2 separate regions of the Homo sapiens genome follow, and region 2 is linked to region 1. Evidence: fine-mapped expression QTL. A gene starts in region 1. The other region holds a variant in brackets. All regions are shown on one strand. Distances are from middle to middle.

Region 1 (8,323 bases):
CAGCGTGGAGAGGAGGGCTGACCGCAGGAGCCAGGTGGAGCTGTGCAGACCAGGCAGGCGAGGCAGAACCCAGCCGCAGCCCCGGAAGAGCTGGCTGCAGCAGCAACCCAGAAATACATCTTCTCCTCAGCCTAGGAGGGTGGGCAAGGCCACAGGTGCCGCATATGTGTGTACACATCCATATATGCGAAGCCATGTGTGCACATGCATGACTGGTGTCATGCATAGGGACAGATGTGTGCAGCACAGGCATACACACGTGTGTGCAATGTGCATGGATTCGTGTTATCTGCACAGGGAAGGCTGTGCGTGCCCGCAGTATGCACAGGTGTGTGCACAGCATGGGTGCATCATTTCTACATATGCCAGTGTGATACATATGCATGTGTAGACATACGTGTGCAAAAAGCACGTGTGTATGATAGTGCATATGTATATATGCACCTGCATGTGAAGAGTACACGGGCATGTGTATGCACACGCAGGCATGTGTGCATGTGTGGGAACATGTATGTGTGCATACATGTGTGTATATTCTGTAGGCATGGATGCACTGTAAATCCACATGGTATATGTAGACAGTGTGTGTGTGGATGTGTGCATGCATGTGTGTGTGAAGGCATGCAAGTGTGCATGAATAGGTTGCATGCTTGCATGCATGTGTGGATATGTGTATGTATGGGTGTTCATGCTTGCATGAACACACGTGTATTCATGATATGTATATTCATGTGTGTGCATGGATCTATGTGTGCACAAGGATGTGTGTGGATACATATATGTGTGTGGACACTGTACATCTGCGTATGTGCATGCATGCCTGCATGTGCAGGGAGGGGGCTCAAGGAGCCAAACTCCCCTCCACCCGAGCTGAGGCTGCTCACGAAGCCTAGAGCGCGGCATCCCAGGCAGGCACCCAGCTCTCTCCGGCACAGCAGCCAGGGCCCAATGTCCCATGGCTGTATGGCCCTGCTGGACCAACCCTGTCCTCCTAGGCCCCACGCATCATGGGTGAGATACAGGCAGGTTCGCCTCTGCAGCTCCAGGACGTGCCACTTCTAGGTTCTCAGTTCTAGGAAACACCTGTAGGTTTCCCCTCTGAAATATGCCCACTTCTGCCATGTACTCCCCTGCACACGTACACACAGACAGCCCCCACAACCCCCGCCAGTGCAGCCTGACTCCCCCAGCACCCTCCTTCCTCGCCCCTCCTGGTCGTGCCAGCTCGCGTCGTGCCTCGTCAGGACAGGAAGTCTTGCTGGGTACGTGCTGTTCTGCTTGTTACGGACAATCCGGAGCAGTTCCTCAAGCCTAATTTCAAGGTCTGGGGGAAGAGTCCTCTCCAGCTTCCTTGCAAACAGCTGCGGTCCCGGGCCCTCCCACCACAGGCAGGCCTGCGTGCAATGCAACCCCTATGCATGGCCCAGGGCTTCGCTCCTCCTAATGACTCCAGGCCCCAGCTTTTTGCCCTTGGCTCCATCCAGGCCCTGGAGTGGACCCTTCTGACCCCTCCCTGGTCATGCCAGGAGGTGTTGCCAGCAGCATGTCAGCCTGTTGGCTGCCATCCCCAAGGGCCTGGGCCGCTCACTGGCCAGGCACTCCAGATGCCCTCAGCCTGGCCTGTGAGTGGCCCCTGCCTTCAGCCCTCCTGGGCAGTGGGAGGCTCATCTGGCTCAGGGCCCCAGGTGCTCCGTGTCCTTTTCCCTCCAAATTCCCGTGCCTGGGCTGCCATCTCTTGGGAACATAGGAGCCAGGATCCTAGATAGATCCCCATGCCCCTGCGCATCCCCCAAAGCACTTCTCAAAAAGAGAGCCCTTCAGGATGGGGGTGGGAGGCACGCTGATGCCGAGGGAGAGAGACCTTCTCCAAAGCCTGCATCTGGCCCCTGCCACTGCTCTTTCCTAGTCCTCCTGTCTCCCCACGCCCCCAGTACAAAGCCCACTCCCACTGGAAGAAGGACAGCCTACAGAGGCCTCCCCCTTCCTCATAACACCTCCTCACTCTCTAAGCACAGTTTGGTCACCTCCTCCAGGAAGGCTTCCTTGACAACCCCGCTCCCAGGCTGGGGGAGGAGCCCCAGGGCACTGATGGTTGTCAGCGCATTCACCTCAGTGGGTGGCCCCATCCACCCACAGATGGTGAGCACCTCAACTGAGGCCAGGCCCCCCTCACTCTCTGCCATCGCAGAGGGCTCAATAGAGACAAGGGCTCCAGCGGGCCGACCATGAAGGAAGCAGGTGTGTGTGGGCTTCCCTGAAAAATGCACCTCCAGGTGCCCTGGACAGGTGGCACCTTTTAGGCAACCAGAACCAGGAGGGCCTTTAGTAAGGATGGTGACCCTCCACCATCCCCAGGTCACACACCTCCCACAGGACAGCCATGGCCTGTTGCCTCCCCGAAGGGCATATGTGCCCTAGACTAGCACAGGACTGGCACAGAAGGCTTTGGCTCCAACGTGCGCCCCTGCTTGGCAGGCCCATCATCTGAAATATTTGCTTTCTGCCGGGCCCTGGCTCGGCCTCCACACCCCCAATGCAGGCCCTGCTGGTGACAAACATGGTGAAGAACGAAGCCGTAGCTCCTGGCAGTGTCTCTGCGGAGACAGACATGCTCCCCAGTAGGGCTGAGCAGCAGAGAACACGACAGGCTCTGAGGCTAAAGCTGGCGCCCTTCAGGAGCTCAGAGAGAAGCTGCCCCAGGCCACGGGCATGGATAGGCATCCCGGGGGTAGGGCAGTCACTCCAGCCGCTCTTCATGATGACCTCCCGGGCACTCAGAAGCGCCCCTTCCCCGCCGGTTCTAGCCACAGGATGGACAGACCTTCCCTCCCTCTCTCCTGCGGGCCCATGCAGGGAGAGGCCAGCCAGCTGGGGTTCGTTTCTGGACGTTTGGGAGAAGGGTCGTCCCTTCGGTCCTAGCAGAGAAACGTCAGGCCTGAGAACTCCAGCTCTCCTCCTGGATCACCTCGTCCCTGGAAGTCCCTCTCCCACAGACCCCAGGCTGCCTGGAGGCAGAAGCCAGCACCCAACATGGGCCACAGAGTGGCAGTGCACGTGGCAGTGCACATCTGCAGAATGGAGGTGCGCGGACGGGGGCGAGGGTGCACGGGGGCTACCTCAACGGCCGCTCTCCCCTGAGCCCACCCTTGCAAAAAGCTCCATCATCCAGGCAGCTCCGTTCTGGGTGTTTGTCAGAGGTGGTGACTTTGAACACCTCTCCATCCTTTAAAAGCAGGGCCTGAGAGCCTAAGGATTAAACTTCAATCACTGCTAACATGGGTGCAGAGCTTGGGAGCTTGCCCAGGGCTTCCACAGACACCGCCGTTAGTTATGATTCATGCTCCAGCAGCGCTGGGAAGTGGGCCGAGGGAACTGAGGCCGGGGTGGGTGCGGAGGTGGCTCTGACGGGGAGCGCCGATCCAGGATCTGGTCCGGACCCTGAGCTCGGCAGGACCTGTGCGCACGCAGGTAGCGTCGCGTCCTCCCCCAGGCTGCGAGAGGTTGCTCTGCCATCAGGCCATGGACCCCGAGCCGCCCGTGCTGCGCGCGCGCGTGTGCGCGCCCCCGCCTGCGCCCATGCCTGCGCCGGGGGAGGCGAAGGAGGCTCCAGTCTTAGAAAGAGCAGCTTCTGGAACTCACCACCCAGGCCGGCCGCCGCTCGGCCCCGTCCCGCAGGCTGCAGGCGGCCCTGGAGGGGGCGCCCTCGCCGAGCGCGCGCCCCGCGCCGCCGCCCCGGACTCCTCCCCGGCGCCGCGCGGGCAGGTTCGACCAGGCGGCCGCGGGCTCCGGTTCCCGGCCAGCTCCCCAGGGCCCGCGGCCCGCCCCGCCCCGCGCGCCCGCCCCGCTGCGCAACTCGACCCAAGTTGGAAGCCGATCGCAGGCGGCCGCACTCGCGCCCAGCGCAGGGCGGCGGCGGCGGCGGCGGCGCAGCTCCGGCGAGCGAGGCGGCGGCCGCACGGCCAAGCGTGGACCGCGGGGGGCGCCCGCGCCCGGGAGCAGCCGGAGGACTCGCGGCGGCGCCGGCGCCCCGCCCGGGAAAGTAAAGTTGGAGACGGAGGGAGCGCGCGGGCGCGGGGGCCCGGAGGAGCGGCGGCCGGCGCCCCGGCGCGCCGAGCCCTAGCCGGCCGGATGGGAGGCGGAGCGCCCGGGCCGCCGCCGCCTGTCGCCTGCGCCCCGGCTGGGCTCCGGGACCGCGGGGCCGCTCAGGCACGCCCGCTCGGGCGCCGCGTCGCCGTGGGCTCGACGCCGGGGCGCTCCCCGTGAGCCGGGCCGAGGGCGGGGCCGCGCGAGGACCCCGGGACCTGCCCCCCTCCCCCCGCAGCCGCGTCGCCGCTCGCTCCGGGCGCCTCCTGCTCTGCACTTACACGCTCGGCAGCTGCGGGGAGCCCGGCAGCCACGCTCTCCGGCGCGCCGCCCGCGGAGCCACCACGGCCGAGGGCCGGCTGCTGGGCGCCGCGGTCCCCGGCGGGCGCGCCCGAGCAGCAGGCGGCGATGCGGGCGCCGACCCCGGCTGGGGGGCGCCCGAGCTGCCGCGGCTGCGCCCCGGCTCCAGGAGGGACGGCGTAGCTCGCGGGAGGACCATGGCGTCCCCGGCGCTGGCGGCGGCGCTGGCGGTGGCGGCAGCGGCGGGCCCCAATGCGAGCGGCGCGGGCGAGAGGGGCAGCGGCGGGGTTGCCAATGCCTCGGGGGCTTCCTGGGGGCCGCCGCGCGGCCAGTACTCGGCGGGCGCGGTGGCAGGGCTGGCTGCCGTGGTGGGCTTCCTCATCGTCTTCACCGTGGTGGGCAACGTGCTGGTGGTGATCGCCGTGCTGACCAGCCGGGCGCTGCGCGCGCCACAGAACCTCTTCCTGGTGTCGCTGGCCTCGGCCGACATCCTGGTGGCCACGCTGGTCATGCCCTTCTCGTTGGCCAACGAGCTCATGGCCTACTGGTACTTCGGGCAGGTGTGGTGCGGCGTGTACCTGGCGCTCGATGTGCTGTTTTGCACCTCGTCGATCGTGCATCTGTGTGCCATCAGCCTGGACCGCTACTGGTCGGTGACGCAGGCCGTCGAGTACAACCTGAAGCGCACACCACGCCGCGTCAAGGCCACCATCGTGGCCGTGTGGCTCATCTCGGCCGTCATCTCCTTCCCGCCGCTGGTCTCGCTCTACCGCCAGCCCGACGGCGCCGCCTACCCGCAGTGCGGCCTCAACGACGAGACCTGGTACATCCTGTCCTCCTGCATCGGCTCCTTCTTCGCGCCCTGCCTCATCATGGGCCTGGTCTACGCGCGCATCTACCGAGTGGCCAAGCTGCGCACGCGCACGCTCAGCGAGAAGCGCGCCCCCGTGGGCCCCGACGGTGCGTCCCCGACTACCGAAAACGGGCTGGGCGCGGCGGCAGGCGCAGGCGAGAACGGGCACTGCGCGCCCCCGCCCGCCGACGTGGAGCCGGACGAGAGCAGCGCAGCGGCCGAGAGGCGGCGGCGCCGGGGCGCGTTGCGGCGGGGCGGGCGGCGGCGAGCGGGCGCGGAGGGGGGCGCGGGCGGTGCGGACGGGCAGGGGGCGGGGCCGGGGGCGGCTGAGTCGGGGGCGCTGACCGCCTCCAGGTCCCCGGGGCCCGGTGGCCGCCTGTCGCGCGCCAGCTCGCGCTCCGTCGAGTTCTTCCTGTCGCGCCGGCGCCGGGCGCGCAGCAGCGTGTGCCGCCGCAAGGTGGCCCAGGCGCGCGAGAAGCGCTTCACCTTTGTGCTGGCTGTGGTCATGGGCGTGTTCGTGCTCTGCTGGTTCCCCTTCTTCTTCAGCTACAGCCTGTACGGCATCTGCCGCGAGGCCTGCCAGGTGCCCGGCCCGCTCTTCAAGTTCTTCTTCTGGATCGGCTACTGCAACAGCTCGCTCAACCCGGTCATCTACACGGTCTTCAACCAGGATTTCCGGCGATCCTTTAAGCACATCCTCTTCCGACGGAGGAGAAGGGGCTTCAGGCAGTGACTCGCACCCGTCTGGGAATCCTGGACAGCTCCGCGCTCGGGGCTGGGCAGAAGGGGCGGCCCGGACGGGGGAGCTTTCCCAGAGACCCGGGGATGGATTGGCCTCCAGGGCGCAGGGGAGGGTGCGGCAGGGCAGGAGCTTGGCAGAGAGATAGCCGGGCTCCAGGGAGTGGGGAGGAGAGAGGGGGAGACCCCTTTGCCTTCCCCCCTCAGCAAGGGGCTGCTTCTGGGGCTCCCTGCCTGGATCCAGCTCTGGGAGCCCTGCCGAGGTGTGGCTGTGAGGTCAGGGTTTTAGAGAGCAGTGGCAGAGGTAGCCCCCTAAATGGGCAAGCAAGGAGCCCCCCAAAGACACTACCACTCCCCATCCCCGTCTGACCAAGGGCTGACTTCTCCAGGACCTAGTCGGGGGGTGGCTGCCAGGGGGCAAGGAGAAAGCACCGACAATCTTTGATTACTGAAAGTATTTAAATGTTTGCCAAAAACAACAGCCAAAACAACCAAACTATTTTCTAAATAAACCTTTGTAATCTAATGTTGGGTGCCGCAGTCAGTCCTTGAGCTTGGGGGCTGGGGGTATCTTCCAGACCCTCACCCTGCCTGACACCCTCCCCCATCTCCCCCACCCCACAATGCTGGACGGAGGGCACCCTGGGCCTCCGGGTTACAACTTCCTTCTTGCATGAGAAGGAGGGGTCTTGCTTTTTCTCAAGCTAACCCTTTATGTACATGGAAAATATGTACTCAAAATTCCTGTGCTGAGAGTAGCGAAGAGGTGAAAGGAGCCTAGAACCCCCAAGTTGACCCCAAGTTTAGATTCTGGGGGACTGTCTTCCCTGCATTCCCATCCCTGCCCCCTGCCCTTCCCCACTCTGATATTCAGGGCCTCCGGTGGAAAGAGGTGGGGCTCTTCCAGTCCAAGACTGAGAGTAGCTTTGAGCTAGTCCTCCTGGCTCTGAACATTTTGTGGGCGTGGCTCTTGGGTGGAGAGAGGGTGGGCGTGAGGCCGGCAAGCCCCCACACCATCACTCTTAGGCCAGAGGCCTGGCCAGAGCCAGGTTGAACAACAGGCACTTTCTTATTTCCGAAACAAACTGAAAGTCATTGAGGCCCCAGAGCAGTGGAGTGGAACAAACCAGCAATGTCTGGAGAGGGGCCTGGGGCCGGCCTGTTTCCTGTGGTGCCCCCAGGGTCTTCCCAGTGCAGCCCTGCCTTTCCCCCTTGCTCCACCGTCAGGCCCAGCAGGTGTCCACACTGTTCACACTGCTGCTTGAGGAAGGGCAGTGGAAAGTGGGGGACAGAATACCAAGGTGGGCTTCCTGGTGCTGGGCCTTCATGGTGTAGGGACCACTCAGACTCAGCCGTGTCACAGGGCCTGGAAGTTGCCAGGATGGCTGGAGGGGAGGGGCAAAAGCGGGACCTGCGCCTGGCAGGAGCTGGGCAGGGGTCCCCCCAACACACACGCACAGACAGCTCGGTAGGCGTGTGGGGGCTGTGTCAGGCCTCCTGCTTGTGACCATCCATTCCCCATTCCCGTCCCCCTTCCCATCCCTGGGAGGCCCCCCTGGGCTTCCCTATGTGTACCCTCCCCTGCCAGACCCTGCCTGCTGAGCCCAGCCCAGATCCATCCTGGATACCCACCTCTCTCTTTGGCATGGGGGGCCAGGGTCTGCCTGGGGAGGGGTCAGCCCTGGGTCCTGTGTTCTTCTGCAAGCCCCCGTCCGCGAAGTCAGGTTCCAGAGCAGGGGGACCTGACTTGCCAGAGTTGGCCCTTGGAGAACCCCCTCGCCGCAGCTGCCTGGCTTCCACCCCAGATGATGGGTCTTCAGGATACCCCAGCTGGGAAGAGCTCTCCCAGCCGTGTCCACAGCTGGCACATGTGCTAATGCTCACACCTGCTGTGTGCTAGTCTCAGACACAGGTGGGGAGATACAGACAGCAGTGGGGGCAGGGGAGGGGTGGAGAACATGGCCAGTCAAGGCCGATGAGGACATCCCTGACCTCCCCCGACCAGGCCTGGGCAGGGAGTCCTGAACTGTTGGCCCAGCTTGTCCTGGAGCTGTTGTACTGGCTCAGACAAATCCCTGCTCTCTGGGCCTCGGTGCCCCACCTGGGAAGTGGAGGGGGTCCTGGGAGCCCTCTTGGGCCCTGCCAGGCCTGCCAATCTGTTGGGCAATCTATCCCCTGAGCCTGGGACCACAGGAGACCCCACCTCAGAGACTCCATGGCTGACATCGCACCCAGGGACACTCTGAGGGCAGGCCTTGGGCTGCGAGAGAATCACTGTACACACATGAAAAAGACTCCAGAGCTCAGGATTTCTGCTCCAGAATCTGCATCTTACCAAGCCGGCAGGAG
Region 2 (8,323 bases), 28 kb before region 1:
GAGCCTGTAAGGCGAGATGGCGTGAAGGACGATGTCGCTAACCTGCCCACGACAGAGTAGGTCCCCACACCAGGGAGGCCACACTCCTCATTCATCTTCACATCCCGAGATCTCCACTGGGCAGGCAACCGGCCCGCCGTGTATGAGGCCCTGCTGGCGGGGATGGGAAGCGGGGACCCAAAGACCTGGGCAGTCACAGGCAAAACGGGGGCTCCTGTGCAAGAGGGAGGACACGGGGGGTTCCCCGTGGGAAAGGGGCAGCCCCAGAAGATGTAGCCTTCTTGGCAGCAGGGACCACACACGGCCTGACTCAAGCCAGTCAAGATTTTGTAACGGGGTCTGGGGACCAGGATGGGCCCAGGCACAGCAGGACCCAACGACATGAGAAGGGGCCCGTATCTCTGTCCAAGTCCAGGCTGGAGGCTGCTGCCAGGCACGTCTTACAGTCGCTGCGTCTGCCCAGCTTAGCAGTCCAGGGGAGAGGAAAGTGCCCAGCCCTGTGGCCCTAGAAATGTGTCCCGGGGAAGCGTCTGATGGGCTCCTCTGGGGCAATCCCCGTGGCTGGGGAGTGGGCTCACCTAGGTCAGGTGCCCACCCAGAGACCTGGGCAGACTGGACCGTGGGATCAGGCATAGTCAGATGACAGCAAAAGCAGAGGTCTGTTGCCAGAAAGGAGGGAAGGGCATAAAGTGGGATGGCCCCAAGGAAGGTGCCCCTGAGGTCCCATCAGCCACCCCGGAGACGAGAGACGCTCATTCCCCGTGTGTGTGTGAAGGCGCGTGGTGTGGGGTGCGGGAGACTGTGTAACAGGCATTGCAGTGTGGAGGTTTCACCCAGTCGTTTTCATAAAACTTGGCTTAAACCCTTGGCCCCAATTCCCACCCCCTTGATGGAGGCAAAGGCTGTGGCTTGGAAAGACGACATCACCATGGTGCTTAGTGGGGCAAACCCAGTTTTATAGACAGTATTGAGGTGGCCTTGAGCACCCTATGTACCAGGCAGTGCCCTCTCACCCTGGAGGACGCAGCTAGACCCCCAGGCTCTAGGGGAGAAGGCCCATCCCATGGGCCAGGTGGGGCAGAGGCGAGGCTGTCAGGAGACGCGGCACAGGGATGGGCCTGGAGCTCTGGAGGAGTGCGAGGGCCTAGCAGCGGCTGTGACCTGGGGACGAGGTTGTGACTGTGGCAGCTGGCTCTTCCCAGGGGCTGGGTGGCCCAGGAGCTCAGTCGGTTGCCCGTGAATGTGGCCCAGTGCACACCTGGCCCCAGGTTCCATGTGAGGAGGCCCCAGCAGGAGGGGACAAGACGGTCTTGGGCTCAGCCCCATGAAGCTTACGTTCTAGTGCAGGAGAGCGATGGAAGCCAGAGGAGCCGGTGGGCAAACGAACAGAATCCCAAAAAGCTGTGGGTCCAACCACAGACCCAGCTCCACCTCCCACGTCCCTCCACAGCGTCCAGGCTGGGGGTGTCCTCGGTCCTGGGACCATGCCTGGCCCTACTAGGCCTGGCCCTGAGATGCCTTGACATTCAAAAATCAGCCAGGAGTGTGTGGATGGTGATGACTGTGTAAGTATCACTCAGGGTGAGGCCAGGCCTGCCGTGACGTCTTCTCCCACAATCCCTGGGAATTTGAGGGTAACTGCAGAGCAAGTGGGTTATTTTTTTGTTTGTTTGAGACAAGGTCTCGCTCTGTCGCCCAGGCTGGAGTGCAGTGGCATGATCTTGGCTCACTGCAGCCTCAAGCTCCTGGGCTCAAGCAATCCTCCTGCCTCAGCCTCCTGAGTAGCTAGGACCACAGGCATGGTCCAGGGTTTCGCCATGTTGCCCAAGCTGGTCTCAAACTCCTGGGCTCAAAAGATCTGCCTGCCTCTGCCTCCCAAAGTGCTGGGATTCCAGGCGTGAGCCACCGCCCCCAGCCAAATGGGTTCTTTACTCATTCTCCACTCATTGTTCCAGATCATATCACATTTCAGTCTTTCCCCAAGTCTCCTGTGTGATTTCTTGTTTTCGTGGAGATTTAATGACCCAATTTTTATATGTATGCCTTTATTTATCATTATTTTTCTCCCTCAAAATCGTTGTTTCTCCATCATAACATCCATTCTGTCCCACCCCCTGCTGCCCAGAAGCCTCCCCGCATCCCCTGGTGTCTGTTCCAGTGTGGACTGGTTGTCCCCAGGTCTGCTCCACTATTCCCGACCTTCCCTTCCCTCCACACAGAGCTGGATCTACAGAGTCATAGTGCCTGTGTTTCCCTTTCTTTGTTTTGCCACCTGCTCCTGCTGGAGCACATCCTCAAGTAACTTCCTAGCAACAAGGGTATGAAAAACAAATACGTGTGCTCTGGCATTTGTGAAAATGTTTTTATTCTGTCCTCTCACTTGATAAACCATTTGACTGTGTATAGAATGCCAGGTCGAACATTACTTGCCTCAGAACCGAGAAAGCATCTTCTCCCCAGACTCCAGTGTTGCCAGTGAGATCTAGAAAGTCAATTAGTTGGGTGTGGTGGTGCGTGCCTGTAGTCCCAGCTACTCTGGAGGCTGAGGCAGGAAGATGGCTTGAACCCGGGAGGCAGAGGTTGCAGTGAGCCGAGATCGAGCCACTGCACTCCAGCCTGGTGACAGTGAGACTCTGTCTCAAAAAAAAAAAGTCCTTCTGATTCTGCTCCCTTTGTGGCTCACCTGTTTTCTTTTCCTGGAAATTTGGAAGCCATCCATGGAGATTGGAAATTCAGCAACGATGCCTCTGGCTATGGGCTATTTTCCTCCCACCATCCAGGGAAGGCCACAGGAAATGGAAGAAATCGTGACACTGGTGCTGTACCATCTGTTCTGTGAATTCCCTGGCCATCGTCTCCCTCTGTTTCCTGTGTTTCTTATTGGGACTCTGTCTGTCCGATATTAGGTCCTCTGGTTTGGTCCTTTACTTTTGTTTTAATCTAAATTCTGGTGGATGTTCTCGACTTTATTTTCCATATTCTCTGCTGAAGTTTGTATTTTGGCAATTGTATTTCAACCTCCCAGTGTTCTTTCTTGTTCTCTCATTGTTTCTATTTGTGTCTTCCTATGATTGTGATATTTTCATGAGTCCTCTGAGCACTTTCATTAGAAGTTCTTGTTTTTAAGCTTAATGTGCTGGGACTTGTTTCAAGAGCCCCTGCTTCCCCTGAGGTCCATGCTGCCGTTTCAGGCTGTTGGAGGGATGCTGGGCAGGGGCAGGCGGGAGCAACCTCTGCTCTTGTCTGAGTAGCTCTTCTTTCCCCTGGGGTAGGACAAGGTGTCACCTGGAAGCTCCGCTTTGAGGGAATGGCAAAGCGGCCACCTCTCCCGCTTGGTGTCCCAGGAGCTGGAAGGAGACAGGCCTTTGGGGGGCCTGCTGGTATCCACAGGCAGTTC[T/A]TTTGAGTTGCTTGGAGAATAATCTAATTTACTTCCTGGGGTATAAGCTTCCTGTCTTCACTCCAAGTGAGGAATTGGGGGTGAGGGGCAGTTGTCCCCTCCAGCCCCTCCTCTCACACCTGCCTTTGGCTGTCCCTGGGCTCTGAGTCCGGAGCCCACCCTGCTTCACCCCTGCGGCCACTCGTGGAGACGCCAGGCTGTGGGTTTCTCTTCCGTTCACCGAGAGTCCACTCCCATTCCTTTCCATGGTCCAGAAACTGGTTGGCGTCTCTCACTGCTTGGCACCTGTATCCCTCCCAAGCTCCTTCCTGGCATGAACCAGTTCTCACTTGTTCTTCTGTGGGGTCTCAGGAGGGGTGAGATGGGCACAGAGCCTGGTAATTCCACTGGGGTTTGGATAAGCCAGGAAGGGATACGATGAGACAGGCATTTTAGGGGGGCCTTTGGAGGCCGCTCAGAGGATGGGCTGGATAGGGGAGGCGCTCACAGTAAGGAGGGCAGGTAGGAGGTCACCACCGGCCCCAGGGCAGTGAGGATGAGGCTGACTGCGGCTTGAGAGGGCTGTCCCACGTGACACAGTGGAGGGGTGGACTGTGGCTTATTCATCTCCACTGAGGCAAGGCTGGGCATAGGACAGGCTGTGAGGACAGTGAGCGGAAAGGAGACAGGAAGGTGGGGCGTTTCTGGTGGGGTGAGGGTGGCACTCCTGCAGACCCTCAGTGGCTGCTACAGCAGAGAGCCGGGGAGGTGAGGTGGCCTGCTCCCTCGCCACCCACGGAGGAGTGGGCCCTGCTCATCCCTGGCTTTGCCCGTCCACTGGTGTGATTCACTGTCGCTTACCCTGGAGAGACGGCTGCCCCAGGTTTATTTATTTATTTATTTTTAAATTTTTTTATTTTATTTTATTTTTTGAGACAGAGTCTCGCTCTGTTGCCCAGACTGGAGTGCAGTGGCGTGATCTCGGCTCACTGCAAGCTCCGCCTCCTGGGTTCATGCCATTCTCCTGCCTCAGCCTTCCCAGTAGCTGGGACTACAGGTGCCCACCACCGCGCCCGGCTAATTATTTTTTATTTTTTAGTAGAGACGGGGTTTCACCATGTTAGCCAGGATGGTCTCGATCTCCTGACCTTGTGATCCGCTCACCTTGGCCTCCCAAAGTGCTGGGATTACAGGCATGAGCCACCGCGCCTGGCTAGGTTTAAACTGGACAGCTTCCCGGGGCCAGCCTACAAGCGGCGCCCACAGGGCCGGAGAGGCCATGAGATGATAAGATGCAACCTCTGCGTTTGTCAAAGAGAGCTCCGGGTGGGGTTGGAGAGGGACCTGGGTGAGCTGCTTGGCCTGGAGGTCAGGTCTTCCCTGGGGGAGGCCAGGGAGCTCTGCATGGCCTTGACCCCCTGCAAAGAGGGTAGGGGCGGCGTGGGGCTTTAGTTCTGCCCCGTGCAGTGGGCAAATTGGGCCCATGCTTGGGGTTATGGGGGAACTGTGTTATCCCAAAATTCATATTGAAGTCCCAACCCCAGGACCTCAGAGTGGGCCCTTATTTGGAAATAAGGTCGTTGGAGATGTCATGAGTTAAGATGAGGTCATGCTGGGATAGGGAAGCCCCTAATTCAATCTGGCTGATGTCCTTATAAAGGGGGAGATTTGGACACAGGCACGGAGGGAGAGTGCCGTGGGAGGAAGAAGGCAGGGGTCGGGGTGTCACTTCCTCAAGCCAAGGAGCGGCCGCGGCTGCTGGCGCCACCAGGAGCTGGGTAGAGGATGGGACCATTCTTCCCTCGCAGCCTCGAGGGGAGCCAGACCTGCCCACACCCTGACCCGGACTCCCGGCCTCCAGAGCTGGGAGAGGAGATCTTTCTGTTTCTGTTGTTTAGGCCCCAGTCTGTGGCACTCTTTATGGCAGCCCTGGGGATCTCATATGTTCGGGGTACAGAGAGGAGGCTTGGCTGCCTGGGGCTCCCTCTCTCCACCTGGCCCCACCAACAGCTGCAGTTCTGGGTCCAGCACAGCCTCATGCTCCCACCCTGGAGGCCTGACACCGAGGGTCGGGGGAATGAGGCCAGTCCTGACCTGGCCTGTGGCAGGTGCAGCTGTCCCGGGGCTGCGATGTGAGGTCCCAGGGACATGAGGCGAGGGCGTGGCCTGCAGCTGGCAGAGGCCCCTCCACAGCGCAGAGCTGAGATGACCTCGTCCAGCGCCACAAGGCCTTGGCGCCATCCCACCGGGCTGAGGTGCGTGGGCAGCACTCACCATGCTCCCCCTGAAACCACAGTCACAGACCAACTGTGGTGGCCCAGCTGCCTGGCCTCCTCCAGGGAGTCTTTGGGATTCCCTGGGCGGGGTGAGGCACCCCTGGGACTCCCATGGGCCTCTGTGGCCCTCTAGTCCCCGCCAGCTTGTCAGTTTCCCGTTAGTTGAGGATTCCCCTCTGGGAGCCACCTGTACCCCAGACCTGGGCACAGGTGGGCTCTGCAGGATCCCTGGATCCCAGGCTCCCTCAAGCTTCAGCAAAGAGACCTCCCTCCCTCAGCCTGGTCCTTGGGCCCTCCAGGACCTGGGGGAGTGGCCAGTCCCCAGTAGGGAGAGGAGGAGAACACAGCTATCTGGGCGAATGTGACAGCGGTTTGCCAGCAAGCCCACCCTGCCCACAGCACCCCTGCCCCGCTTTGCTGGAAGAAGGTGTGGCCTGGGTGTGGGAGGAACCTCCACCCCCAGAAACCCAGCACAGCAGCACTGCCAGACTGTGAAGGGCCCCACGCGCGTCCGGGGCCCTCTCCGTGAGAATCAGAGGTCACACAAGCCACAGCTGTAAACGCTCATCAAAGAGCACGATAGGCCACTCGACGAGTTCTGCCGCTAGTGACAGGGAGAGAGGCCAGTTCCGCCCCGATCAACCACGCTGGCCTACACCACTTCCGCCCTGATCAACCACGCTGGCCGAGGCCAGTTCCGCCGCCGATCAACCATGCTGGCCGAGGCCAGTTCAGCTGCCGATTAACCATGCTGGCCGGGGCCAGTTCCGCTGCTGATTAACCATGCTGGCCGTAATTTCATGACCTGTCACTTAGGATTTTTGTCCCTCAAAATGATCAAAGTGCCACGAACACGTGGGATGACAGCATCATCTGCACCACCCCATGCCGTGGAGGAAGAGCTGGGTTTGGGCATCAGGAGGTCCAAGTCTCTGCTATCATCCCTGTGCTGGGGTGGTCACCCATCCCCCAGGGCCATGTCACCTCACTCAGGAAATTGAGGTGATCAATGACTTTAGCAGAAGCTGGTTTTAGAGCAAAGTCCTTTGCAGGGTCCTGAGGGATGAAGCAGGGGAGGAGGGAACAGCTCCTGTTCTGTGGCTGGAGGTCCCAGGAGCACCACACACCTGGGCTCCCAGCCACTTGGAGGACAGGCTGGAGGGGGAGGCACCCGGGGTGAGAAGGGCAGGTGAGGGGTGGCAGGCCACTAATGACCCCAGGGCAATCAGGATAAGGCTGACCATGGCTTAAGAGGTGCTGTCCCATGTGACAGTGTGGAGGGGTGGACTGTGGCTTATTCACTGGAGGCTTTGAGAAACAGCCAGCACATCCCTGATGTGAGGCCGGTGGGTCTCCCTCAGCCGCAGTGTCACAGAGATCTCCCTGCTCTGCTGGCTAAGAGATTTCACGCCAGCTCACCTTGGAACTTGGCAAAAGGCCCAAGACAATGCCCAGATTCAGCTGTGTGGCATCTCGATCTCACCCACTTGAGCGCTTCTCCACCCCAGCAGGCCCGCTGCCATCAAGGGCTTACCCTGTGGGCTGCCCACGCTGCTGTAACCAGTGACCACAAGCTCCGTGGTGTTGAGAAGCACATGTTTCTCCTCCCACGGCTGTGTAGGTCCGGAGTCCTACGGGCTCAGCCAGTCCCCCTGCTCCAGGTTTAACCAGGCCGGAATCAAGATGCCAGGGCCTGGCTGTGCTTTGGAGGCTCTTGGTGAGAACCTGCTTCTGGCCTGGTGCAGGGTGTGGCAGAATCCCGATGCTTGAGTTTGAATGGTGAAATTTATGCTCCAGCGTGGCTGGGCCATGGTACTCAGATATTTATTTAGTCAAACCATATTCTAAATGTTGCTGTGAAGGTAATTTTTTTTCTTAAAGATTAAGATTTAAATCAGGCCATCTGCTTCACCTGATTGGATGTGGGAGGGCCTCATCTGATCAGGTGAAGGCTTTCAGAGAAAAGGCCACACTCCCTATGGAGGAAGAGAGGATTTCGGCAGCCGACGGACTCGGACTGGAGCTTCAGCACAACTCTTCCCAGCCTGCCAGCCTGCCAGCCTGCCGTGCGGATTTTGGACTTGACAGCCCCTGCAACCACACACACACACAGACACACACACACACACACACATACACATACACACACACACGACCTCTGGGTTCGGTTTATCTGGAGATAAACCGAATGATACACCATCCTAGGACTGAGGTCCCTATCCCTTGCTGATGGCCAGTGGGGCTGTCCCTAGCCCTGCAAGGCTCCCTGAATCCCCTATCACACTGTCCTTACATCTTCCAACCAGCAGTGGCAGGTGGAGTCTTTCCCACTCTTTGGATCTCTCTGACTTCTCCTACACTGCCCTGACTCCAGCCTGATGGAGTTCCCTGTTTCTAATGCCTTCTGTGCTTAGACCAGGCCCTCCCAGATAATCCAGGACAATCTCCCTGTCTTAACATCTCTGATTAGTAACTGTAATTACATCTACAAAATCCTTCTTGCAAAATTACATTATATGCAATGTGACGTTCACAGGTACCAGGGTATGGATAAATCTGGGGGACCCAATTTGGCTGCCACATTTGCCCTTGGTGAGCTTTATCCCCTTCCTCCCCCTTCACACCCCCAGAGCTCTCAGCTCCTCCAGTGCATCTAAACCTGCTCTGGGGC

The links. PIP is the estimated chance that this variant, and not a neighbour inherited with it, causes the effect.
Region 2: its variant is fine-mapped to the expression of ADRA2C in cerebellar hemisphere (GTEx, PIP above 0.99).

The regions. Positions count from the first base shown.
Region 1 is chr4:3,762,027-3,770,349 of GRCh38, forward strand. It overlaps ADRA2C (adrenoceptor alpha 2C), which reads left to right and starts at 4,359. Exons shown (of 1, transcript NM_000683.4): 1 at 4,359-6,500. The coding sequence starts at 4,581. The coding sequence ends at 5,969. RefSeq lists enhancers at 1-31, 6,064-6,581, 6,774-7,459, 8,146-8,323.
Region 2 is chr4:3,734,210-3,742,532 of GRCh38, forward strand. No RefSeq gene overlaps it. Among named protein-coding and RNA genes, the nearest start is that of ADRA2C, 28 kb to the right of the region's middle. The variant T/A (reference allele first, on the strand shown) is at 3,398.